7 linked regions of the Homo sapiens genome follow. The protein of the gene in region 4 purifies or fractionates together with the protein of the main gene of each other region. This does not show direct contact. Each region holds a gene or a part of one and is shown on either strand. Other genes may lie near its edges.

The links.
Region 1: the proteins of ARHGAP29 (region 4) and RRP15 fractionate together in Homo sapiens (co-fractionation; one large-scale study listed by BioGRID). This does not show direct contact.
Region 2: the proteins of ARHGAP29 (region 4) and CBS purify together in Homo sapiens (affinity purification with mass spectrometry, with the first as the bait; one large-scale study listed by BioGRID). This does not show direct contact.
Region 3: the proteins of ARHGAP29 (region 4) and CD244 purify together in Homo sapiens (co-immunoprecipitation; one large-scale study listed by IntAct). This does not show direct contact.
Region 5: the proteins of ARHGAP29 (region 4) and FIP1L1 purify together in Homo sapiens (affinity purification with mass spectrometry; one large-scale study listed by BioGRID and IntAct). This does not show direct contact.
Region 6: the proteins of ARHGAP29 (region 4) and CCNT1 purify together in Homo sapiens (affinity purification with mass spectrometry, with the first as the bait; one large-scale study listed by BioGRID). This does not show direct contact.
Region 7: the proteins of ARHGAP29 (region 4) and SYT1 purify together in Homo sapiens (co-immunoprecipitation; one large-scale study listed by IntAct). This does not show direct contact.

The regions. Positions count from the first base shown.
Region 1 is NC_000001.11:218,302,293-218,305,792, reverse strand, and holds part of RRP15 (RRP15-like protein), read right to left. Parts: coding exon of another isoform or gene 3,500-3,500; coding exon 3,234-3,499; intron 766-3,233; coding exon 668-765; intron 1-667.
Region 2 is NC_000021.9:43,069,336-43,072,835, forward strand, and holds part of CBS (cystathionine beta-synthase), read right to left. Parts: intron 2,867-3,500; 5' UTR 2,859-2,866; coding exon 2,650-2,858; intron 1-2,649. UniProt on the Homo sapiens protein: Hydro-lyase catalyzing the first step of the transsulfuration pathway, where the hydroxyl group of L-serine is displaced by L-homocysteine in a beta-replacement reaction to form L-cystathionine, the precursor of L-cysteine.
Region 3 is NC_000001.11:160,842,388-160,845,887, forward strand, and holds part of CD244 (natural killer cell receptor 2B4 isoform 1 precursor), read right to left. Parts: intron 1-3,500. UniProt on the Homo sapiens protein: Heterophilic receptor of the signaling lymphocytic activation molecule (SLAM) family; its ligand is CD48.
Region 4 is NC_000001.11:94,175,085-94,178,584, reverse strand, and holds part of ARHGAP29 (rho GTPase-activating protein 29), read left to right. Parts: intron 1-417; coding exon 418-733; intron 734-864; coding exon 865-973; intron 974-3,500. UniProt on the Homo sapiens protein: GTPase activator for the Rho-type GTPases by converting them to an inactive GDP-bound state. Has strong activity toward RHOA, and weaker activity toward RAC1 and CDC42. May act as a specific effector of RAP2A to regulate Rho.
Region 5 is NC_000004.12:53,380,641-53,384,140, reverse strand, and holds part of FIP1L1 (pre-mRNA 3'-end-processing factor FIP1), read right to left. Parts: intron 1,864-3,500; coding exon 1,806-1,863; intron 369-1,805; coding exon 265-368; intron 1-264.
Region 6 is NC_000012.12:48,710,208-48,713,707, forward strand, and holds part of CCNT1 (cyclin-T1), read right to left. Parts: intron 2,370-3,500; exon of another isoform or gene 2,044-2,369; coding exon of another isoform or gene 2,041-2,043; intron 1-2,040. UniProt on the Homo sapiens protein: Regulatory subunit of the cyclin-dependent kinase pair (CDK9/cyclin-T1) complex, also called positive transcription elongation factor B (P-TEFb), which facilitates the transition from abortive to productive elongation by phosphorylating the CTD (C-terminal domain) of the large subunit of RNA polymerase II (RNA Pol II).
Region 7 is NC_000012.12:79,280,774-79,284,273, forward strand, and holds part of SYT1 (synaptotagmin-1), read left to right. Parts: intron 1-3,500. UniProt on the Homo sapiens protein: Calcium sensor that participates in triggering neurotransmitter release at the synapse. May have a regulatory role in the membrane interactions during trafficking of synaptic vesicles at the active zone of the synapse.

The sequences.
Region 1 (3,500 bases), about 120 Mb from region 4:
AAATAATTTAGGTAACAAGAATTTAAAAGTAATTCTGCTAAATATAACTGCTAGGTTCTTTAGCAGCAGCCCAAATGTTATCTCCTCTGTAATGCCTTCTCAAACTCTCCCAGACAATCTCCTGTTCTATGTTCCCAACACATAGACATAATTCTACTCTCAAAGAGACTGTAATTCCTACAGATGACCAGGCAAGGACCACCTAGCAGCCACCATATCCTGTTTGTCTTTGGACACAGAGGGCATCAAGTAAACGTTTGGTGCCAATGAATAAATAAGCAGAGTAAAAAGATAGCATGAAATAGCTATAATGTGTAATGTATTATGCCATAAATATAATGCAAGATAAAAACCATCATTGAGTGCCACAAATTTAGACAAGCATCATAAGAGAAATGCAGTAAGAGGTCTGATTACACAGTTCTCGTGACTATAAAAACAAGATGATCTGAAATAGGTTCTTACCAAATATACACTTAGCACATTATATTCTTGCTTCACGAGACCTGGAAAATCTTTGGTTGAATTCAGTGTTGAACAGGCAGGCTTAGATATATATCACTTGGCTCTGAGAAGGCTGAGCTTAAGAATCAAATTGGGTCAAAAATAGAACCACTATGATAGCTTTAGTATACTTATTTTTTAAAGGGCAAAAACACTACCTTACCTTGTTGCAATTCTCTGAAGATTTCTCTCTGTCTCTTTGTCTTGGACAACATCTGGCTTTACTCTGCACATCATTTCCCACTCCAGCCTCTTATCACGCTGCGTTATAAATATTGTTATGTGAAAGAATATTAGATATTTCTGAAAGTGCAGCAAACATTGGTATGATACTCTGTGAAAGGGTGAAGGTAATAAATCATTCTGGCTTAGTTTGTCAGGGGCTTTTAAAAAAACACAATGTTAGGGGTTTAGCTTCGAGAGCCTGTGGTTAGCACTCAGCGTGTCATGCGAGAGGCACAAAGTGAGTTTCTGTCAGGCCCTCTGACAGCAGGGGCCTGGAGAGCTGCCAGCATATTCGGCCAGGCAGTACAAGATAGGGTGTGAGGGAGCCACATGCCTGCTCTGCCATCACCAGATCATCAGAGGGAAGCATAAGGAAGAATTCCAAACTACCCTCTTTGAAAATTATAAGTTTATCTTTACTTTCAGAAAATGACTTCCTCAGTCATCAGAATTACTATTAAGAAAATGTATCAGCTTTTAAAAGAACAGCATCGTATCCAGATACTTATACAATGACTATTTTTCTATGCAGAGAATCATTTAAATCCATTTCTCCTCTCGTAGCATATCTGACCAATAGTCTTGCCATATATGGTTTATCAGTTGTAAGCTACAGCAAACTGTACAGAAGCAGAAGGGGAGGTGGGAAATAAGAAAATTCCCTAGGTAACATAATTTAGTTTGAACTTGTCTTTAAATAGTATCCTGGTCCCAGGAATCTGATTTGATACATTGCATGTTCATGTCTCCTTCTCAGGCCAACATTTAACCAAATATCAAATATAATGATATAATGCATTAATCAATGAATGCTGGCAAGCATCAAAACCAGTAATAAAGACAACGTTTTTATTAAAATTTCTTTTTTTATCTATGCCTTTACTCTTCTATTTCTCATTTTGTATTAATGAAAGTGTCTAATCACAGTAAAACCAAATTCTTGCGCTCACTATAAAGATTAGCCTGATAGCTTTCTAAAGTAATAGATTATTCTCCTAACCAGACAATTCATTTTAGTGGTCATGAAATTCACTGTCAGATTATGACAGGAATTTTTTTTTAAAATCTTACTTTTAAGTTTGAAACAGTCAATTCTTAATTATATTCCGTACTCAAAGGATAATATGTATGCTTAATCCTGAAACATTCTTAACTCTGAAATTTGTTTTTGTATTTATGATTAGAAATAAGTAGCTGATATATTGGAAAACCATAATAGTTAAATTAGGAAATAATAATTTACATATTCTCTTCTAAGAAATACACACAAAGAGCATTTGTAGCTGCCATGTCTTGCTTCTGGTATCAATACATGTGCTTTCATGCATTATGGAGACAGTATCATCTCTAGCACTCAAAGCTTTGGCCTAGAGCAGAGTTACAGACTCATTCCTCTTGGCTTCAAAATGTTCTTACCCTCACTAGAACTCTGAGACCAGAGGAAATCAAAGATTCTGATATTTTTGAAGCCTCTTCTAGCATTTGCCAGATAATAAACAAAGATTCAAATTTTCAGTTGAAAAGCTATCCATAAGATTTAAAGACAAAACTTACCTTAAATAAAGTACAATAAGAATATTGAATTAATAATAGAGTATGCTGTGTTTCTAAGAGCAATACTTAAAAATTTCCACCTTTCACACAGAGCAACCAGTATTAAGAACAAAGAAAACATTCATCTTGAAACAAGAAAAGGAGATGGTAAACATAAAAGGAAATATATGTCAGTTCAAACCTATGTTTCTTTCATTTTTACCTATGAAGTGACTTTGGGAATTAGTACTTCTATGCTGCCAGTACATTTGTAGAAAGTTATTTTTCTTTAATTAAAAAACATGCTTAATTTAGTAACCAAGTATTTTAGACAGAGATCATCAAGTACAGGTGATATGAAAGCCTTATCATGGATTTTTAGCTTTTATAATAAACCACAAATTTATGTACAACTTTTGGCCTTTAATTAATAGATTATACCTAGTCTAACAACTATCATCAGTAGTTCAACAAAAGCATAATGAATTCAAATTTATCCAACACTGATTTGTATCTAACACTGAAATAATCCGTTTTCAGAACTACAACCAATCCTTGAGTTACGACATTGTCACAGATTCCTATTGTAAAATAAGTTTTGGCAAAAAAAAAAAGTAACTAACATGCTTCTTAGTTCACAACCTAATAAAGTCAGCAAACAGACAGCTAAAACAAATAAAATAGGCTCAGGAATCACTACCATGTGTATAATTACTTGATTTTAAAAAGATGTTTCCTCAGCGTTTACATTTCTATTACTTTGCCTTTGCATAGATGATTAAAAAGTGAACATGCTCAATGGAATAATTTAGACTAAATTCCTAAACATAACCTTAGTTATCCACCTTCACATAAAAAACAAGTTAAAAACTGGAACGTTAATTGGTCAAACACTGCAAGAAACAGTTCGGTCAAGATAAGAGCTAGCCTAGACAAACAATCTAATCTACAAGAGAACTGGTGGAACATACCTGTTTTATTTTCTCTAGTCTTTCTTGCTTTAACTTTTCTTTTTCCTTTTCCAGCTTCTTATTTTTGACCAGAATAGTAGGTTTACTTTCAGGAGTTTTCTTGTTGAGGACTTTAGCCATAGCATCTGCCCAGCCCATATTAGTCCCAACACTTGATTCTCCATCATTTTCATTTTCTTTGTCACAGGGCTCAGCATCACCCTCACTGTCAGCTTCTATTGCGTCATCATCAGAATAAAAGTGGTCCTTTTCCGATCCACAGCTTCC
Region 2 (3,500 bases), on a different chromosome or scaffold from region 4:
CTAAATGGCCCTCATGCCCCTGCCATCCTCCCCCAGGGAGATGCTGATGACACCCCCTATCTATCTGCACCAAGCTCACCACATACTCATCTGGGAACACGCATGGCTTACAGCGGTCTCCAGACCCGCAACCCCTCCCTGGGCCTTGCAGCTCCGATGACACCCCGTGGCTAACCCTGGGCCCCCTCTTCAGCACAGTCACCTGCTGAACAGCCAGGGTCCTTGGGTCCTGCCCCCCAGGAGGCGACCCTTAGACCTGGGGTGAACCCAGCTCCCAGAGGTCCTGTGCCATGGAGGGAGTGCCACATTTGCAGGGAGAGCTACCCTGAAGGCCAAAACAGGCGCCAACAAGAGCAGCTGGAATCCAATCGCACCCTTCCCGGGGAGCAGAAGGCAGTCCTGCCAGGTCCCCAAACTGTACAGGGGCCAGGGAGGTTCCCTCAGAAGCAGTTCTCGGCAGAAGGGAACCAGGCTTGGCAGGTGTAGAGAGCCAGGGCCAGGTGGAAAGCCAAGCCCCAGGGTGACAGCGCCGGGGATTAGTTCATTAATTCAGTTCGGGCATCTGGCCAGCCAGGCGGGAAGAGTCCCGCCTCCCTGCAGCAGGTGTGCTGACTCAGCACTGGGCCTCGGTGGCTGTGAAGTTACCTGAGAAGTTTGCAGAGGTGATCAGGGCCAGGCCCAGAGCGCTTAGCAAGAAAAAGGATGTGACTTGCAGGGATAGCCCTGGAGCCCCTTATCTCAAGGACTCCCACTTCCACAGCCCAAGAGGCTCCTGGGAGGACACGCCACTGTCCTAGAATGAACCTCCAACTCCTGACCCACCTCTGCAGCACCTCCCCGCAACGCCACTATTCTCAGGGGCCCTCCGACTGGAGACAAGCGGCGTCGGCTCTGCGTCTCAGGATGGGGGTGTCTTCGGAGGATGAATGAGGCCAGTATGTGAGGTGCAGGTGCAACGCCATTTACAACCTGGAGGGCATCGTCTCCTTCTCATGCCCTAGAGTTAGGAGCTCACGGAGCCCTCAGGAATCGGGCCTGTCTTCCCTGCCCACTCCACCCTCCAGCAGCCACTCCCGACCTCACCGGGCCTCTCACCCACTGCTCTCTTGGGTTTGTCTTGGCAGCAAGAGCCCATCCTCCTGGCTGCCCACACATCTGCTTGGCCTCCTGAGCTCCCAGCACTGAGTATGTTTGACACTCAGACCTTCTGGGTTTGTCCACTGTCACTTCTTTCTTTCTATTGCTGCACTGAGAGTACACCCAGCCACCCCCACCCATTCTGAACTGTAAATCAACAACCATAAACGCTGGTAGTGGTGGACACAAAATAGGAATCATAATCCCAGCACTTTGGGAGGCCGAGGCGAGTGGATCAACTGAGGTCAGGAGTTCAAGACCAGCCTGGACAACATGGTGAAACCCCATCTCTATTAAAAGCATAAAAATCCACCGGGCGTGCTGGCACATGCCTGTAATCCCAGCTACTAGGGAGGCTGAGGTAGGAGAATCGCTTCCCGGGAGGCAGAAGTTGCAGTGAGCTGAGATCGCGCCACTGCACTCCAGCCTGGGTGACAGCGAGACTCTGTCTCAAAAAAAAAAAAAAAAAAAAAGGAATCAAACATCTAAGAAGCACATTCTTTGATCTATTTGTTCTCCTCCAAGATTACACTAAGGAAATAAAGATAATCCTAAGGCTTAGTGAGCTTGATTTCAGTTTCATGCTGGGGTAGGGATTTTTGTTGATTTGTCTTTTCCACTGATAGATCTTCTGCGCCTTGAGCAGGGCACGAAATGCACATGGCGCTGAGGAAAGACTTGTTGGCTAAATGAATGTGTCGTATCTTCTATTGCAGTTATGTAAAATGAGGTAACTGCAAACATCTATCTACCCCGTAGAGGGCTTACAAAATGATGGCTTCTTCACCGAACAGTCTGTGCCACCAGAAAAACAGCCCTTATGGAAAAATATGTAATGCCTACGGGAAGTCTTCATGACCTAGAGTTAACGGAAAAGTGCAGGCTGGGCCGGGCGCGGTGGCTCACACCTGTAATCCCAACACTTGTGGGAGGCCAAGGCAGGCGGATCACTTGAACCTAGGCATTCAAGACCAGCCTGGGTGAAACCCCATCTCCTAAAAATACAAAAATCAGCTGGGTGTGATGGTGGGCACCCATAGTCCCAGCTACTTGGGAGGCTGAGGTGGGAGGATCCCTTAACTGGGGGAGATTGAGGCTGCAGTAAGCCATGATTGCACCACTGCACTCCAGCTCGTGTCTCAAAAAAATAAAAAATAAATAAATAAGAGAGCGCAGGCAGGATCCTGGTCCCTCACCTCCAGTGAATGTGCACACGCAGCCACAGACCGGGCAAAGCATGTGACCTGGGCACATTTATTTATTTATTCTGGAACTACTTGCTGAGCATCCACTGTCTTGCCAGGCACTGGCCTAGGCGCTGGGCTGCAGCGTAAGGAGGCCTTGGCCTCTCAGAGCCTCATCTACACGGCATGGCCCCACCCCCAGCTCCTCAATCCAGAGTGACTACAGGGGGTTACACCTCATGTCCTCCTGGCTGTGTGGTGTCCAGGTAACAAACTCCTGCCCTCCAGGTTATGGATCAGCCCTCTTGTGATCAAAAGCAGGACTTACGGGGCAGTGTGGTGATGTGGGGACTCGGAGGCAGGCCGGCCCAGCTGCCAGGTGCACCTGCTCGGAGCATCGGGCCGGATCCACAGGGGCTCCTTGGCTTCCTTATCCTCTGGGGACCCCTTCTCCAGGCTCCCCTTCGCCGAGTGTGGCCCTGAGCGGTGGGGGCAGCCTGTGGGCCCCACTTCTGCCTGGGGGGTCTCAGAAGGCATGCTGGGACCTGGCAAAGCAAGGAGAGAGGCGTCGGTTCAGGCTCGGATGCTGTGGGGTTCCAGCGAACCCTGCTGACCCGGCCCCCTCTGGGAGGCGTGCTCTGCTCCCTCAGAGAAGCCCAGGAAGAACTGCACAAAAACACAGGCACCAGCCCTGTGGGCAGCCGCTTGGCCATTTCTCTCCTATAGGCATATACCAAAAAAAATGGAAGCAGACAGTTGCTTGGGCCGGGTGCGGTGGCTCACGCCTCTCATCCCAGCACTTCGGGAGGCTGAGGCAGGAGGACCACTTGAGTCCACGAGGTCAAGACCAGCCTGGGCTCCAGCCCCATCTCTATTTAAAAAATAAAACAACAACAACAAAACAGATGCTTGCACACCCATGCTCACTGCTGCACTATTCACAAGTCAAAACGTGGAGGCAGCCCACGTATCCGCAGACGGATGAACACACACAGTAGGCTCATACACACACTAGAATATTACTCAGCCCTAAGAGAAATGAATTCTGGCACACGCTACAACACGGACGAACCTTCAGGACATTATGCCAAGCGAAATGAGCCAGACACAAAAGGACAAATACTGTGTGATTCCACTTCCACGATGAGGCACCTGGGACTCTCGAACGCCCCTCTATGT
Region 3 (3,500 bases), about 67 Mb from region 4:
GCACAGGTGCTAGGGAGCTTATTTGTTTACTCTTTGTAAAGACAGCAGTTTGGCTTGAGAGGATAAATTCTTAACCATGATGCTATAAATACCACATCTAAGGTGACTCCCTCCAAGCAGTGCTGAGGCAACTACTAATGGCAAGTAGTGACTGTTGGAAATTCTGAATGGTCAGGCCCAGGAAGACTAACCGTCCAAGCTGAACTCATGGCCCCTCAACCATCCTCTCACAGAGCTGAATACATAATCCTCTCTCGTGGCACTTGGTTCATTGGATTTTGGTCATTACTTATTGATGTTTGCCAGTTTTTCAGTGATCAGAAAGTCTCCACAAAAATTTCTCCCTAGAAAACAATTTTAAAAATAAAACTACACTTCCCAGGCAGATCCCAGCACTTGCCTCTCAAAGAATCAAGATGAAACCTAATGAATATGGGGGTGTGACAACCTAGAGCAATTCTGTGCAGTCAGTGTACAAAACTGGAAGTTCCTACAGCCATTTTTAGTAATAAAGCTATGTGGCATGGCCCAGCAGGTGCAGGAAATTAAAAAGTCTCTCTGGGTGAGTTGGGGAGGCTCAGGGAGGATTTGGAAGAGAAAATAAGAGATGGGGAGAGTTTTACAAGTGGCTCCGTTAAAATGGAGGCTATTAAGAAGAGAGCAATTGAGACAGAGGGGTTTTTATATGTCCAGTGCATTATGAATGCAGTCTCTCCAAGCCACAGCTTCACCCTGGCATTTTCTCAAGAGACTAAGTAAATAATTAAAGGACTTGTAATACTATTTGTTTGATGAAATATGTTTCTTTGATCTTGATGCTCCTAAGACTAAAACACATAGGTTCCCATTTATATTTATATGACTTGTACTGGCTCTGCCCATTAGCAAACCAAAAGCTTCTCAAAAGCAGAGACTGTGCTGTGCATCTCTGTGTCTCTGTCTCCTACGATCCTAGCACTATTTATAAGAACAAGTCAACCTACCAAATATTGCACAAAGACCCTGAGAACAAAGGTGAATGGAAAAAATCATTACTAAACCTACAAGGAGGACATATACTGTCTTCATCAATTATTCAGTCCTTACTGAGTCCCACTGCAATCCAGCCCCTGAAGAGGCAGGGCCTCTTCATGTATAAGGCATGATTCCTGACTCCAGAGAGTTTGTGATCTGGAAACAGAACACTTTCATTCTACAGCATCCCCTTAATTGTTGAGATAAAAAATCATCGAAGGAATTCTAATTATGTAATGAAAATCCAGGTTAAGACATGCTAACCAATCCTCCCACTAAAAATAGCTAGAAGAAAAATGAACAACATGTAAAAGCACATTGTTAAAGTTATCAGAGAGTTTATAAAGCAGTGAAAAATTATGGGGCCAATATCTGGAAGAAGGAAATTCAGAGAGGTGAGATCAGCATTTCTGACTGTTGTTCCCTGGAGGCATCTTCTGATTCCATAAATGGCAGCTAAAAGGCTGAGAAGCTGAGCAGAGCTCACAATAAAACTCAAGGAACTAAGAGAACATGAAGTTCACGTCCCTCCTATTAGAAAGCGGGTATACATAAAATCCATCAGTGTTGAGGTTGGTACCACAGAGGGCTATACCCAAAGAGTAAGAGTGAACGAGAAATGAACAGCCCTCACAGGAACTGAAGCTCAATTTTGAATCATCACAACCCTGGATTGAACTAATGATCTGGAATCTCTGGTAGCCCTAACCTGGCTGCCAACTAGAGGCAAATATAAGTTATGACTAGAGGAAAATAACATCAACCAGAGCATTAAATTATTCCTAGAATGTTTCATACACAATATCCAAAGTGAAGTATAAGAAAAGGAAACATCTCCAAAAACCAACAGAAGAATAGAGACAACAGAAACCAACAAACAGGGCATCTACATAATAGAGTTGTCAGTCATAAACTTTAAAGTAATCATGTCTAATATGTTCAAGGAAATAAAACATAAGTTTAAGAATTTCAGCAGAGAACTAGCGTGATAGAATGCAAAAATACCATGTCCTTGCAATGTGACTTTACAGCTCCTTCTGTTATCAAGAAATGGGGTTCATTTCCCTGTCTCTTGGAACTGGGCTGGTCTTCATGATGAAACGCAGCAAAAATGATGTTCTGCTAGTTCTAAGCCTAGATCTGAAAAGGCATTGCACATTTCTACTTGTTCTCTTGGAACCTCATCTGGCTGACCTGTGAACAAGCCTAAAATAGCCTGCTGGAGAATAAGATATCACATGATACAGAGATAAGCCAACACAGCTAAGGCCATTCTAAATCAGCTAGCCCTGGCCTGGTGCGGTGGCTCATGCCCGTAATTCCAGCACTTTGGGAGGCCAAGGCCGGCAGATCACTCAAGGTCGGGAGTTCGAGACCACCCTGGCCAACATGGTAAAACCTCGTCTCTACTAACGATACAAAAATTAGCCAGACATGGTGGCACACACTTGTAACCCCAGCTACTTGGGAGTCTGAGGCACGAGAACTGCTTGAACCCGGGAGATGGAGCTTGCAGTGAGCCGAGATATCATGCCACTGCACTCTAGCCTGCATGACAGAGCAAGACCTAATCTCAAAAAACAATAAAAAATAAATAAATGAATCAGCCACCCGTGGCCAGTCTGGCAGCTGACCACACATGCATGACTGATGCAAGAGGAAACCAAAAGAACCACCTAGCTGAGCCCAGCCCAAATTGCCAACTAGCAGAATCACTAACTAAATAGGTAGTTGTTTTAAACTACTGGATTTTGGAGTAGGTCATTATGCAGCAATAGTTACCTGAAATTGGATTTTTTTTAAAGAATTCAATGAAAATTACAGAAATAAAATGTAAAATAACTGTAAAACAAACTCAATTGAAAGGTTAAAAAGGCCATTTAGATGCCATTGAAAAGAGAATTAGAAAACTGTTATAAAATATCCAGAGTGAAGTAAAGAAAAACAAAAGGATAAAAATACACAAGAAGGAGTGTAAAAGATATTTGAGATATAGCAAAAACAAAACAAAACCCCTAAACTAAGTGTAATTGGAAAGCAAGGAGACGAGAGAGGAAAGAGGAACTAAGCAAAAGAGATAAAAGATAAGAATTTCCCAAAACTGACAAAAGCCATCAAGATAGATTTGTAAAATGTGTTACAAACCCCAAGCAAGATCAAAACAAACCGACAAGCTGGGCACGGTGGCTCACGCCTGTAATCCCAGCACTTTGGGAGGCCCAGGTGGATGGATCACCTGACGTCAGGAGTTTGAGACCAGCCTGGCCAATATGACAAAATCCCATCTCTGCTAAAAATGCAAAAATTAGCCAAGTATGGTGGTGCACACCTGTAATCCCAGCTACTTGGGAGGCTGAGGCAGGAGAATCACTTGAATCCAGGAGGTGGAGGTTGCAGTGAGCCGAGATCACGCCACTGCACTCCAACCTGGGCAACAAGAGTGAAACTCTGTCTCAAAAAAAAAAAAAGAAAAAAAACAAACCAAT
Region 4 (3,500 bases):
AGAGGAGTGGGAATGGTGTTGGAACTGAGATCTTCAGAAGGGAGAATCATCTAGACTTGGAGATGGGTAGTGAGACACCTGACAATGATGTTTAAGTTCCCAGTATAAGGACTTGGGAGGATATACCATATACTGAGATGGGAGCAGTTTTTAGGGGTATTTTTTCTTTCTGCTGGTAAAACTATAGTAGTTCCTTCTACTTAACTTGAAATTTATTCCAATACTGTGAAACTGTGAAACTCTATTTGGCATGTGGTCAATATTTTAATCAAATAAATATAACCTTTTCCTAGACTTTTTCCCCCTAGTATTTTTGTGCAGCTCATTTTCCCTCCACCCTCTCTATTCCATAGTAAACTACAGTCAAGGAACTCTAATAGGAAAATCTCATACAACTTTATGTGTTCTACTTTGCAGGGTAGTAGATCATGCAGAAGAAAACAAGATGAACTCCAAAAACTTGGGGGTGATATTTGGACCAAGTCTCATTAGGCCAAGGCCCACAACTGCTCCTATCACCATCTCCTCCCTTGCAGAGTATTCAAATCAAGCACGCTTGGTAGAGTTTCTCATTACTTACTCACAGAAGATCTTCGATGGGTCCCTACAACCACAAGATGTTATGTGTAGCATAGGTGTTGTTGATCAAGGCTGTTTTCCAAAGCCTCTGTTATCACCAGAAGAAAGAGACATTGAACGTTCCATGAAGTCACTATTTTTTTCTTCAAAGGAAGTGAGTTTGACCTTTATAGAATTATATTAGAACTTTGTAATATTTATGTTAATAAGTTAAAGATCTTTGAACTGTTTATTTTGAGGTTATGTTTTACTTCTTCCATTTTAAAAATTATCTTGCATCAACAGGATATCCATACTTCAGAGAGTGAAAGCAAAATTTTTGAACGAGCTACATCATTTGAGGAATCAGAACGCAAGCAAAATGCGTTAGGAAAATGTGATGCATGTCTCAGTGGTGAGTAGCCATGTAAAAAAAAAATATGTTTGCTGGCTTAAAATTTTACCAGTAGAACCGTGATTAAAACCAAGGTGAGGGGCAATGAGGGAAGCCAGAGAATGAAGCTTTATTAGTTAACAAATCTTGGCTAGCCATTGAGAAAGTTGCCTTTTAGTGTATCTTGCATTTAAATGAATGTCATTCTTCATAAAAGTCTTTCTTATAATAAGACATCTTGGAGTTTATAATGTTTTTTGTGTTCCTTCTGAATTTTGTTTTTGTTTTTGAGTTTTGCCATCAGCTAAAATCAAGGTAGAAATGTGTTGAGCAATGTGATATTCGTTAGTATCTTCCAGTTCCGTAGTTCAGTGCATTGAGCTAACTGCTCATACAGAGTCAACTAGACTCCTGAAATTCAAAAACTTTAGAGTCCTACTTTTTTTTTGACATGCTTTTTACCTGTGGCCTACATTTAACCTATTAAACACAGAGATGTGTATGTCTTTTTTCTTTCCTTGACTGCGATCATTTTATTCACTTATTTTCTCTTTATAATATTAGTTGCTGTCATTGCTAGTTGTTAAGCTGGTGGAAAAGCTTCCATTTGTATTGTCATTTCTACATTGTTATAGCTAAATTCCAGTTTTTTACATTGCAGCCATATATGTTAAATTTAATGTGTAATCAAGTATCAGTGATCATAGGGTCTAAAAAGGAAAGGAGGGCCGGGCATGGTGGCTCACGCCTGTAATCCCAGCACTTTGAGAGGCCAAGGCGGGCAGATCACCTGAGGTCAGGAGTTTGAGACCAGCTTGGCCAACATGGTGAAACCCCGCCTACTAAAAGTACAAAAAATTAGCCAGGTGTGGTGGTGGGCGCCTGTAATCCCAGCTACTCGGGAGGCTAAGGCAGGAGAATCACTTGAACCCGAGAAGCAGAGGTTGCAGTGAGGCGAGAACGTGCCATTGCACTCCAGCCAGGGTGACAAGAGAAACTCCATCTCAAAGAAAAAAAAAAGGAATGGAACTAACATTCACCAGGTACCTGCCTGTTCTGTGCTAAGCACTGTGCTTATTTGTTTGATTCTATTTGATCTTCATAATAGTTCTGTGCTATAAAGTAAATAGCATTATCCTCATTCAACCCATAACTAACCGTCTGAAAGAGACTAAGTAATGCCAAAGGTTGTTCTCTTAATACATTTGAACCCAGTTCTGATTACTAAACCTAACCTTTGTGGCTATCCCATGAAGCTCTTAGGAACAGTAATAATAATAAATGTCACTTTCCAGTGTTTATTACATACAAGATAATTTTAAGCACTTTTCCTAGTAGATCATTTAGATCACACAGCAACATAGATACACATAGGAGTCTTATTTCGCAGATGAAGACACATAGGACAGTGATATTGCCTAGCCCAGTGCAGAAGTGGCAGGCAGGGCTGAGCCAGGACCCAGGCAACTGTGCTTCAGAGTCTGTGCTCTTCTCCATTATGCTCTAAGTTTTTCCCTCAGAAATTTAAGAATATATGTTGGTGCCTAGAGTCCAATTGCAAGGAACCAGGTCCCTTAGAATGCTCTATAAATGTGTGGAGGACCTGGGAAAGCAAATCAAAAGAGCCTTGGGCCAGGTGTGGTGGCTCACACCTGTAATCCTGGCACTTTGGGAGTCTGAGGTGTGCGGATCTTGAAGCCAGGAGTTCAGGACCAGCCTGGCCAACATGGTGAAACCCTGTCTCTATTAAAAATACAAAAATTATCTGGGCATGGTAGCAGGCACCTGTAATCTCAGCTACTCAGGAGGGTGAGGCAAGAGAATCACCTGAACCCAGGAGGCAGAGGTTGCAGTGAGCCAAGATAATGCCACTGCACTCCAGCCTGGGTGACAGAGTGAGACTCTGTCTCAAAAAACAAAAACAAAACAAAACAATAAAAGAGCCTTGGAACCCAGGGAAGAGAGGCCAGCAGTCCCAGGTGTGGAAGAAGTTCAGATGAGACGATGACCAAAAAGTGACTCTGGTGGGCACCTGTCTGCAAACCACTGCCTAAGAGATGTGGGTGAAGGACTGGGTGGCAGAGAAAGGATTGCATGCTGTGCTTGGGGCCGACTGTAGCTTAAAGTCAGGATGGCGTCAAGGCACAGAGTTGGTGGATGTGTTTCAGCAGTGAACAGAAAAGCAGGAGAATGGAGGGCTGGAACATTCCTGGAATTGGAATTTTTTAGGATAGATGCAGGAACTGAGGCTTCTAAGTGAGAAAACATGGACTGTGGGTTCGGACTATAGAAAGAAAATCCGGGAGCAGGTGGGGAAAATGGCACTTTTTAACTTAAAAGCATTCAGCCTTCATTTGACAGAATGGATTTTATGCTTTATTAGTTGATCAGATATGGAGAGCATCTAAGGCATCTAATATCATATGCTCTCACTGGGTTGAGTGTAACTGAAAAGCAGATTGAGTGAGTTGGCAAAATCCTTGGGATTCAGGGCACACTTACATCTGGTTGGTGTGTAAATTAGTGTCACTTTTCTGAGGTTAATTTT
Region 5 (3,500 bases), on a different chromosome or scaffold from region 4:
CTCTATGCCTGGCCTAGCACTCAATTCTTTTATAAAAACACTTTAAATTCAGCATCAAAAACTGCTGCTTCTATGTACCTTCGCCTAATCAATTAACTGTATTTTAGCAAAGAAGTATATTCATGATGAAACTTTAACAAGTTCTTTTATGTTAAAATAGAAAAATGTAAAAACAATGGACTCAACCACTGAGAGTTTGATATAGGCACACTCTCCTTACTATATAGCATTTACACAATTGTTACTTACTAAAAAATAACTTACCCATACTGTGGTGCTCCCGTTTTAATGTCTCCTATAGTGACATGAACATCATCTTCATCATCATCGCTGTCACTATCACTATCATCTTCGGTCTCAGTCACTTTCTACATGAACATAAACAAATTATAAAATACATTCAGTAATCCATTTCAACATCTAATACTAATAACTAAAAAAAGTAACCACCCTGTTTTTTTTTTTCTTTCTTCTGTCTTGAGACAGACTCTCACTTTGTCGCCCCGGCTTGAGTGCAGTGGCATGATCTCAGCTCACTGCAACCTCCACCTCCCAGGTTCAAGCAATTCTCCGGCCTCAGCCTCTAGAGTAGCTAGGATTACAGGTGCCCGCCACCATGCCCAACTAATTTTTGTATTTTTAGCAGAGACAGGGTTTCACCATGTTGGCCAGGCTGGCCTCGAACTCCTGACCTCAGGTGATCCACCCACCTTGGCCTCCCAAAGTGCTGGAATTACAGGCGTGAGCCACCATGCCCGGCCCCACTCTGTATTTTTTTGAGATACAATTTAAAAGTTACAAGCTTATAATGCTGCCACCTATTTCAACTCATAATTTTGATGTTCTACAGGATAAAAAGGATAAGACTATGAATAAAGAAATGAAATCTTTTTGGCATCATCTCCTTGTGGTAAACAACACCTCATTTTTTTTTTAACTATCATATCTGCCCCTCTTGCAAAAAGATCTAAAGCAACTTACTAAGATACCTACAAGATAAAATTATAAAAAATAAGTATTTGAGAAGTCTTGGCAAAAAAGAATCTAAGAGGAAAACAATTTTAAGATTCACAGTGTCACAAATACAATGTACCAAATCAATTAAAGAATTAAAAAAAAAAACCCCAAAGCATAAGAAGTACCAAATAGTTAAGTAGAAGCTCAGTTATTCTTGGTATTCTTGTATACCTAGAAGAGGCCCTACATGCAAATTCTATATTTGTGAAGATTTTACTTTGGCTCTTAAAGGCTATTTTGTGCTTAATCACATCATAGTAAATAAGTAGATCACATAGGCAAAATACTTTTTTGTATACAACTTCAAACTTCCGGAACAATAACTTCCTTCCTTTTATAGGATTAAAATGCACAAATATTCATAGGACCAATGATATGTTCACCTCACAAAGTATCAATGGCATGCAGGCATGCAGTCAGGGACTGTCACATACATTAAAAAGCAACGTTAAAAAATCGTAACAGTGAAAGGTTGTGGGCTCAAAACTTGCTCTGAAAACCAGGCTCACTATATTCAGTAGATTTATAACCATTCAATTCCTTGAAAGCAATAAACATCAAGCCTTTGCACATACTATTTTCCTCTGCAGTCTTTCTACTATTTCTTTTCCTCATTTTAATTCCTATATATGTTTTTGATGGCACCAGATGAAGTAGGAGATGTAAGAAAGGGCCAGATAACACCTGATACTGAAGGTAATGTAAAATGCCAGCTTGCTTTCTATGTAAACTGTGAAGCTATTGATAAAGATTTGTATCAGTAACTGGATTTCAAAGCCTTATGTTACCGGTTTTGGTACACCATTTTCAGCAGTTTCATCTTCAATTCCAGATGGAGGATTAGCACTACAAACAACAAAAGTAAGTATACATGTCAGGCATTACTTTTCGGAAGTACAGATAGATTATATTAGTATTTCTAAGCTTTAATAAAGCTCCTAAAATTATTGTCTCCACTGGAGACAGTAATGGTAAAATCTGACTGTCTTATTCCGTTATTTCTAGTAACTTGCAGAAGACAAGTACTCAACATTGTAAGTAGAATGCAAATGCCAGGCTGGGCGTGGAGGCTCATGCCTGTAATCCCAGCACTTTGAGAGGCTGAGGTGGGTGGATCACGAGGTCAGGAATTCAAGACCAGCCTGGCCAAGATGGTAAAACCCCGTCTCTACTAAAAATACAAAAAAAAAAAAATTAGCCAGGCATGGTGGCGGGCACCTGTAATCCCAGCTACTCGGAAGGCTGAAGCAGACAATTGCTTGAACCCAGGAGATAGAGGTTGCAGTGAGGCTGCAGTGATCATGCCACTGCACTCTAGCCTGGGCGACAGCGTGAGATGCTGTCTCAAAAAAAAAAAAAAAAAAAAAAAAGAATGCAAATGCCTTCACAGTTTATTAATGATTTATAATTTGATGGTGGGCTATAATTCAAGCTTTTTACACATTTTAAAAATATATGACAAACTTAATCAATTTTAATTATCCTAAATCAATTTGATCTTTACAGTGGCATTTTATAGCACAATCACCAAATAAAGCAAAATGAAAGATAAAAAGTCAAAACATAACTGTTATATTTTCATTGTTCTACTGCTTGCTTCAAGAAAACAAATATGCAGCTATAATTGTTCAGTACATTTACCTCCTGCTGAAATAAGCTTCTAGGTAGCCAGAAGCAAGTCCCATTTGCTTTCTACGTCACAAAACAGTATCCCTTCTTTAGTCAAAACTTGGATAGATATAACACAATTGGAGACTGCAATGCAATGTTTAAGAAAAACAGAGGCTTCAGCAATGAGCCAGTCAGTAGGAAACGGGCAAATTCTAATAGCAGGAACTTTGGTAGAGCAATGCAATGATGTACCAAGCCAGATAGCAGTAGGTCTGGCAGAGTACCTTTCTTCAATAGGCCTACTCTTTTGGAAGTTTTAATTTTCTATCACCATTAAAATGTTAGAAACATGATAAAATTTTAAGCTTTTTCTAGAAAAATAACACTGTAAAGGAAATTGTTTTTTCCCCCATAGGATGAAATCAACTCAACGGCTCCCCAAATGAAGTTGCAGAAAGGAATATAAAGCTATGTTGACAGTGACACTCAGGGAAGGTAGAAGGTTCCCTCCAATAAATTTTAGCAAGTTGTGTATTGCGGAATTAAAATTAAAGAATGTTTGATTAGAAAGTAAGCTTTTAAAATTGTAACCAATAAAAATAAAAATTAATGGGATAAAGATTATCATATAGAAAAGTATATTTGATTGTAAAACTATACCTGTAATTAATTTCTTGACCAACTGAAGGAATGGGTACAAAGAAATATTCAATCACTTTCATAACATAAACTAAAACTAATCTCAACTTTGTGGTTGAGATCAGAATTAGGAACTGAGTTGAATATATAAATTTTAAAATGAAATAACATTTCAGATAATATACCAATGAGTGAAAAGACTATAGGGGATTTTTTGGGTAAGGAAGCTGAAC
Region 6 (3,500 bases), on a different chromosome or scaffold from region 4:
TAAGAAAAACACACACACACATACAAAAATGCCTGAGGACTTGACAGGATATATAACATATCAATGCCACATTGATTATTAGGCCACATTTAATGTATTAAGTCCTCTCACATTTAAATTTGGATTCATCACAGCTAAACTTAGAATTAGTATGTTAAAAGGTGATATTAAATCTGGAATCTGTTGATTCCAAAATGTGCCTAAAATCAATCCTCTAAAAAGGATCAACAACTTCAAATTAATCAGTGGATTTTGAAAAAGGTCATGACATCCAAAAGAATATCCCTATACTAGCCAGGTGCAGTGGCCCATGCCTGCAATCCCAGCACTTTGGGAGACTGAGGTGGGAAGACAGCTTGAGGCCAGGAGTTTGAGACCAGCCTGGGCAACAGAGCGAGATCTCCCGTCTCTAAAAAATAAATATATATAAAAATGTTTGAAAGAATATCTCTATATTGGATAACTACCAGATCATCCATTCATTCAATAAGTTTACTGAAACTGCTTTAGAGAATATACAGAAAAGGGAATCTCTGTCCTTGTTAAGCTTAACAGATAAGAAATAAAAAGATATGGCCTGGCACAGTGGCTCATGGCTATAATTCCAGCACTTGGTAGGCCAAGGCGGGTGGATCGTGAGGTCAGGAATTCAAGACCAGGCTGGCCAAGATGGTGAAACCCCGTCTCTACTAAAAATACAAAAATCAGCTGGGTGTGGTGGCAGGCGCCTGTAATCCCAGCTACTCGGGAGGCTGAGACAGGAGAATTGCTGGAACCCAGGAGGCGGAGGTTGCAGTGAGCTGAGATCGCGCAGCCACTGCACTCCAGCCTGGGGGAAAGAGAGAGATTCCAGGTCTCAAAAAAATAAAAAAAGATATAACTTAAAAGATAAGGCTGGACGCGGTGGCTCACACCTGTAATCCCAGCACTCTGGAAGGATGAGGCGGGCAGATCATAAGGTCAACAGTTGAAGCCAAGCCTGGCCAACATAGTGAAACCCTGTCTATACTAAAAATACAAAAATTAGCTGGGTGTGGTGGCGGGTGCCTGTAGTCCCAGCTACTTGGGAGGTTGAGACAGGAGAATCGCTTGAACCTGGGAGGTGGAGGTTGCAGTGAGCTCAGATGGCGCCATTGCACTCCAGCCTGGGTGACAGAGTGAGACTCCATCTCAAAAATAAATAAATAAATATATAAATAAATAAAAGTTAAAAGGAGGGGAAAATATATATTAACCTATACATGAAGAGTGGACAAACTGATTTGAGAGTTTCTTTTTTTGATTTGAGATTCACTTCACCCCAAATTTCAAGTCTTTATCATAATAAAAGGGAAGAATTATAGAAAACCTTCAGAACTGGCAAAATGGCTAGGAATTTCCTCTTCAAATTTCACTTTTTAACTACTCACTACCTTCTATTCTGGTGCTATCAGATAGCCTCGTTAAATGCTAACAGGCTTCTCTCTCTTTTAATAAGAAGGATATACTCCTTGCAATCAGAGCCAGAGCAAAGCTCCAGGGCATGACTAGAGGTACAGGGGCTAAGGGCAGAAGAAAGCCAACCTGGGTGGATCATCAGCAAAAATCTTTTTCTTTTTGTTTTGAGACGGAGTCTCATTCTGTCGCCCAGGCTGGAGTGCAGTGGCACGATCTCGGCTCACTGCAAGCTCCACCTCCTGGGTTCATGCCATTCTCCTGTCTCAGCCTCCCGAGTAGCTGGGACTACAGGCGCCCACCGCCACGCCCGGCTAATTTTTTTTGTATTTTTAGTAGAGACGGGGTTTCACCATGTTAGCCAGGATGGTCTTGATCTGCTGACCTCGTGATCCGCCCATCTTGGCCTCCCAAAGTGCTGGGATTACAGGCGTTGAGCCACGGCACCTGGCCCACAAAAATCTTAATTCACAAATCCAAAAAGTTTCCTGTGCAGTTACTCCCAATACTGTTTCTGCCAGTTTCTTACATTTCAGGAGCTATGTCTAGCTTCATAAACTCTCTTTCTACAGCATTAAAAAAGTAATAATAAATCTGAAAACCCACCATTCTAAGGATACGAAATAAGCATCCTCAAAAGCATAATCTTTTTCTTTTTGAGATGGAGTTTCGCTCTTGTTGCCTAGGCTGAAGTGCAATAGCGATCTCGGCTCACCACAACCTCGGCCTCCCCAGTTCAAGTGATTGCCTCAGCCTCCTGAGTAGCTGGGATTACAGGCATGAAACTCCACGCCTGGCTAATTTTTGTATTAGTAGAGATGGGGTTTCTCCATGTTGGTCTCAAACTCCCGACCTCAGGTGATCCGCCCGCCTCAGCCTCCTAAAGTTGTGGGATTATAGGCTTAAGCCACCGTGCCCAGCAGGATAATCTTTTCCTTAAAAAAAAAAAAAAATAAAAAAAAAAAAAAAAAAAAAAAGCAGGGAAATACTTGACTCACAAATCCATTTGAAGTATACAGCCGGTGCAGTGGCTCACACCTGTAATCCCAACACTTTGGGAGGCTGAGGCGGGCAGATCACCTGAGGTCAGGAGTTCAAAACCAGCCTGGCCAACGTGGTGAAACCTCGTCTCTACTAAAAATACAAAAATTAGCCAGGTGTGGTGGCACATGCATGTAATCCCAGCTACTTGGGAGGCTGAGGAAAGAGGATTGCTTGAATCTGCGAGGCGGAGGTTGCAAAGGGCCAAGATCGTGCCATTGCACTCCATCCTGGGCAACAAGAGCGAAACTCCATCTCAAAAAAAAAAAAATCAATCCATATGAAGTACTCATCAAGTTTATCCCTATTACCTTGGCGTTTTATTAAGTAAATACAGTCCTTCCTAGAACTGGGATATCACTATGCATTCAATTCCAAGTCATTTATAATAATGTTAAATAGGACCATTTCAAATAGCTACACTGAAAAGATCACTATTTATAATTCTGTACAAAAAAATAAAATTTCTTTATTAGTATAATTTTATTCTTCCTGTTCTTTGTAAAATTTTTTTTACCTTTTTTTTTTTTTTTGTAGAAACGGGGTCTCACCGTGTTGCCCAGGCTGGTCTCCAACTCCTGGGCTCAATCAGTCCTCCCACCTGAACCTCCCAAGGTGCTGTGATTATACATAAGAATGAGCCACCATGCATAGCCTATTTTTCATGTTCTTAAAAGTCATTTTCCCAGTTATTATTACATAATGTGCTTTCCCCTCCAACTGCTGACTGGAATTTTATCAAAGGCTTTTGGAAAATCTAAGTAACTTACATTTACTTCTTTTGCTGTGACCATATTTTATAAACTACTTCAAAATTAATGCCAGGAATGGCGGCTCATGACTGTAATCCCAACATTTTAGAAGGCGGAGGCGGAAGGATCCCTTGAACCCTGGAGTTTGAGACCAGGCTGGACAACACAGGGAGACCCCATCTTCACAAAAAAAATTTTAAAAATTACCAGATATGTTGGCAAGCCTGTGGTCCCAGTTACTTGGGAGGCTACGGCAGGAGGACTGCTTGAGCC
Region 7 (3,500 bases), on a different chromosome or scaffold from region 4:
CAAGATCCACAGGGACCTCAAATCAGCAAGAAAAAAAGATAATAATCCCATAAAAAGTGGGAATATGTGAAGAGAGATTTTTCAAAAGAAGCCATACAAGTGGCCAACAAACATATGAAAAAAATGCTCCACATCACTAATCATCAGAGAAATAAAAATTAAAACCAAAATGAGATACCACCTTACAGTCAGAATGGCCATTAATAAAAAGTAAAAAAAAAAAAAATAGATACTGGCATGGATGCTGTGAAAATGGAACTCTTACTCACTGTTGATGTATTAGGTAAATTAGTACAACTTCTATGCAGAACAGTATGGAGAGTTCTCAAAGAACTAAAAACAGTTCTACCATTTGATCCAGCAATCCCACTAATGGATATCTACCCAAAGAAAAAGAAGCCATTATATCAAAAAGACACCTGCACTTATATGTTTATTGCAGCACAATTCACAAACGCAGAGGTATGGAATCAACCTAAGTGCTCATCAATGGATGAGTGGATAAAGAAAATGTCAGATACGGATATAGAGATATAGATAGATATAGATAGATAGATCATGGAATACTACTCAGTTATAATAAAAGAACAAAATAATGTCTTTTTGCAGCAACTTGGTTAGAATTGGAGGCTATTATCCTAAGTGAAGTAACTCAGAAACAGAAAACCAAAAACTGCATATTCTCACTTATAAGTGAAAGCTAAGCTATGGGTATGCATGGGCATATAGAATGGTATAATGAACACTGGAGACTCAAAAGTGGGAAGGGGATGAGAGATTAAATATTACCTATTGGATACAATGTACACCATTCAGGTGATGGGTACACTAAAAGCCCAGACGTTACTACTATACAATTCATCCATTTAACCAAACCCCTAGAGCTACTAAAATAAATAAATAAATGAAAAGACAGCAGAAAATACATGACTAGCCCACATGAATATTACTAATGTATAGTTACCTATATACAGCATATATTACAAATCTCTTGAGGTCTTCTTTGTATCACTTGAGTTCCTATTGTTGCTATAATGAATTATTCCAAGTTTACTGTCATAAAAGCCACACACATTTATTATTTTCCCATTCTGGAGGTCAGAAATCTGAAATTGGTTTCACTGAGCTGAAATCAAGGCGTCAGCAGGGCCAATTCTCTCTTGAAGGTGTAGGGGAGAATCCATTTCCCTGCCTTTTCCAGCTTCAAGAGGCACCTGCATTCCTTGGCTCATGGTCCCTTTCTTTATCTACAAAACCAGCAACAGAGACTCTTCAAATCTCCCTCTCTCTCTTGGACTCTGACATTTCTGCCTGCCTCTTTCACTTATAAAAACTCTGGTAATTGCATTGAGTCTACACTCAGATAATTCAGGATAATTTCCCCATCTCAAGATCCTTAATCTAATCACACTTGCAAAGTCCCTCTTACCAGGCAGGGTAAGGTATTCACAGCTTCCAGAAAATAGGATGTGGTCATCTTGGAGGGGCCATTATCATGTCTACCACAAGGTATTAATTAAAACATCAGAAGCAGTTTTAAATTAATTTGCCTTGTACTTAATTATTATGTATCAATTTACCTTTGGGTCAGATAATATATGTGAGATTGATTCATTAACTAGAAAATGAAAATAAAATTTTTAATAGAGTTTTTATACTAGTCAATTATTTTCTGCTGAAAGGCCTTTAAGTTGAATGTTAAAATTGTTATTATAAACTTCCATGTAATGGTAGTTGGGTAGCAATAACAATAAACTGATAGTTTTCTGCCTGTAGCAGTATTTTGATGAGACTATTTTTGACTGAAACTCTTATTTTGTATTTAAAAAATCACTGCATTTTATGCTGTTATTTGCTTCACTGAATTATTTAATTTAATATGTTCTATTAAAGAGACTTTAAAGCTAGATACAAATTTTTTCTCCGTATACATTTTTAATATTCACATTTTTAACCTAACGACCTAAAGATAAATTTGAATTTCTCAAACTATTCAACCTATAGTTTTTCCTCTGTAAAACTGCAGTGATACTGAACAAAACTGCTGCAAAGAATAAATAAGATAATGTATCTATAACTGTAGCCAAATTGCTGGGCCATAACAGGTAGGTAGGTCTTCAATAAACTTTTAGCCTGATCCAAAATATATTCCACAAGATTTGCTGACCAATATTGAAACATGTTTCTACAAATACTGCAGATGAATAATACTGTGGGTGTTGTTTCTTAGTAAACTTGCCAAATTTTAAATATTTGGTTACTCTACACAATTAAATAAAATTTTAACATGAGCATCCAAGTAACTCTATTTACTAAAAATGGCTGTTTCTTTACATGATATATGACTAATGAGTGAAGCTATCCTATAGCTATACAAAATGATAACGTTAAGCATTTTTTATTTTGTCTATCTAAAGGTGCCAATACATTGTGAAGAAAATTCTGTTAATTTCATTATATTTAATACAGCATATTCCAACTTAAAGTTATTCAGAAGATCAACTGAAGGCAAATCTAAAAGACAGCAGTGCTTTAAGAAATAAAAGTCATAAAACAAAAGTTTTTCAGTGGTTATAAATTACTTTCAAGTTGCATTATTTCAAATTTCTTCCTGTAATCTCATGTTCCTAGCTCTTTAACTCCCTTTGATTAAATGATGTTCCTTTGCTTTCACTATTTTCTTTTTGTGAACTTGTCAAATCATCTTTGTCTTGTCTTGTACAATTTAAGAGACTTTTATGTAGCTCTCTGAGCGACTATCACCACACAAGTCCAACTGGGAGAATAATTTATGAGGTTCAAAATGAAGGGTCATTATGAATGCTGTCTTTCCCGCAATGAATACATACACTCTCTTGTTCATGCATGACAGGATTTTAACTAAATCAATGGAGATAGATGCTTTTAAATGAAGTATTATGAATGATATCATTGGTTACATAAAATAATTTACTTTTTATGTAATCTTTACCTTGTTTAATAAATTTAGAGAACTGGAAGAAAACTTCTTTAGGTGTGGGTTTATCTGTAACTGTCACATAAGTATTTCTTTGGTAGAAAACACAATTTCAAAAGTTGTAGTTTTATGTCCTTAGGTTAACATCTAGTATCCAGTCATAAGCCAGAATATTATGCATAGTAAGTATTCTGCACAATGATACTAAATGCAGAGGAAAAGCAAAGAGAGTAGATTTTCTCAATTTTGAAGAGAGGTTAATTTTTAAGTGTTTTTACTTTATCAAAGTATTCCTGACTGGTGTTCAGCAATCATTGGTTCTAGTAATGTTTATTTGGCTTTTTCTTATCATTTCAGTGCCCAGTATCTTTTTTTTTTATTACAACAGACAAATCTAATTACTTCTGATTAATCTCAATAGCTGTGATTTGGATTATGAATACTTCCCTTCCAATCTAACTGAAATCATAAATGTTTCCATGTCACCTTATTTTTTATAAGCACATGGTGTAAGGCATACCAAATAAGAAAATATATTAACTTT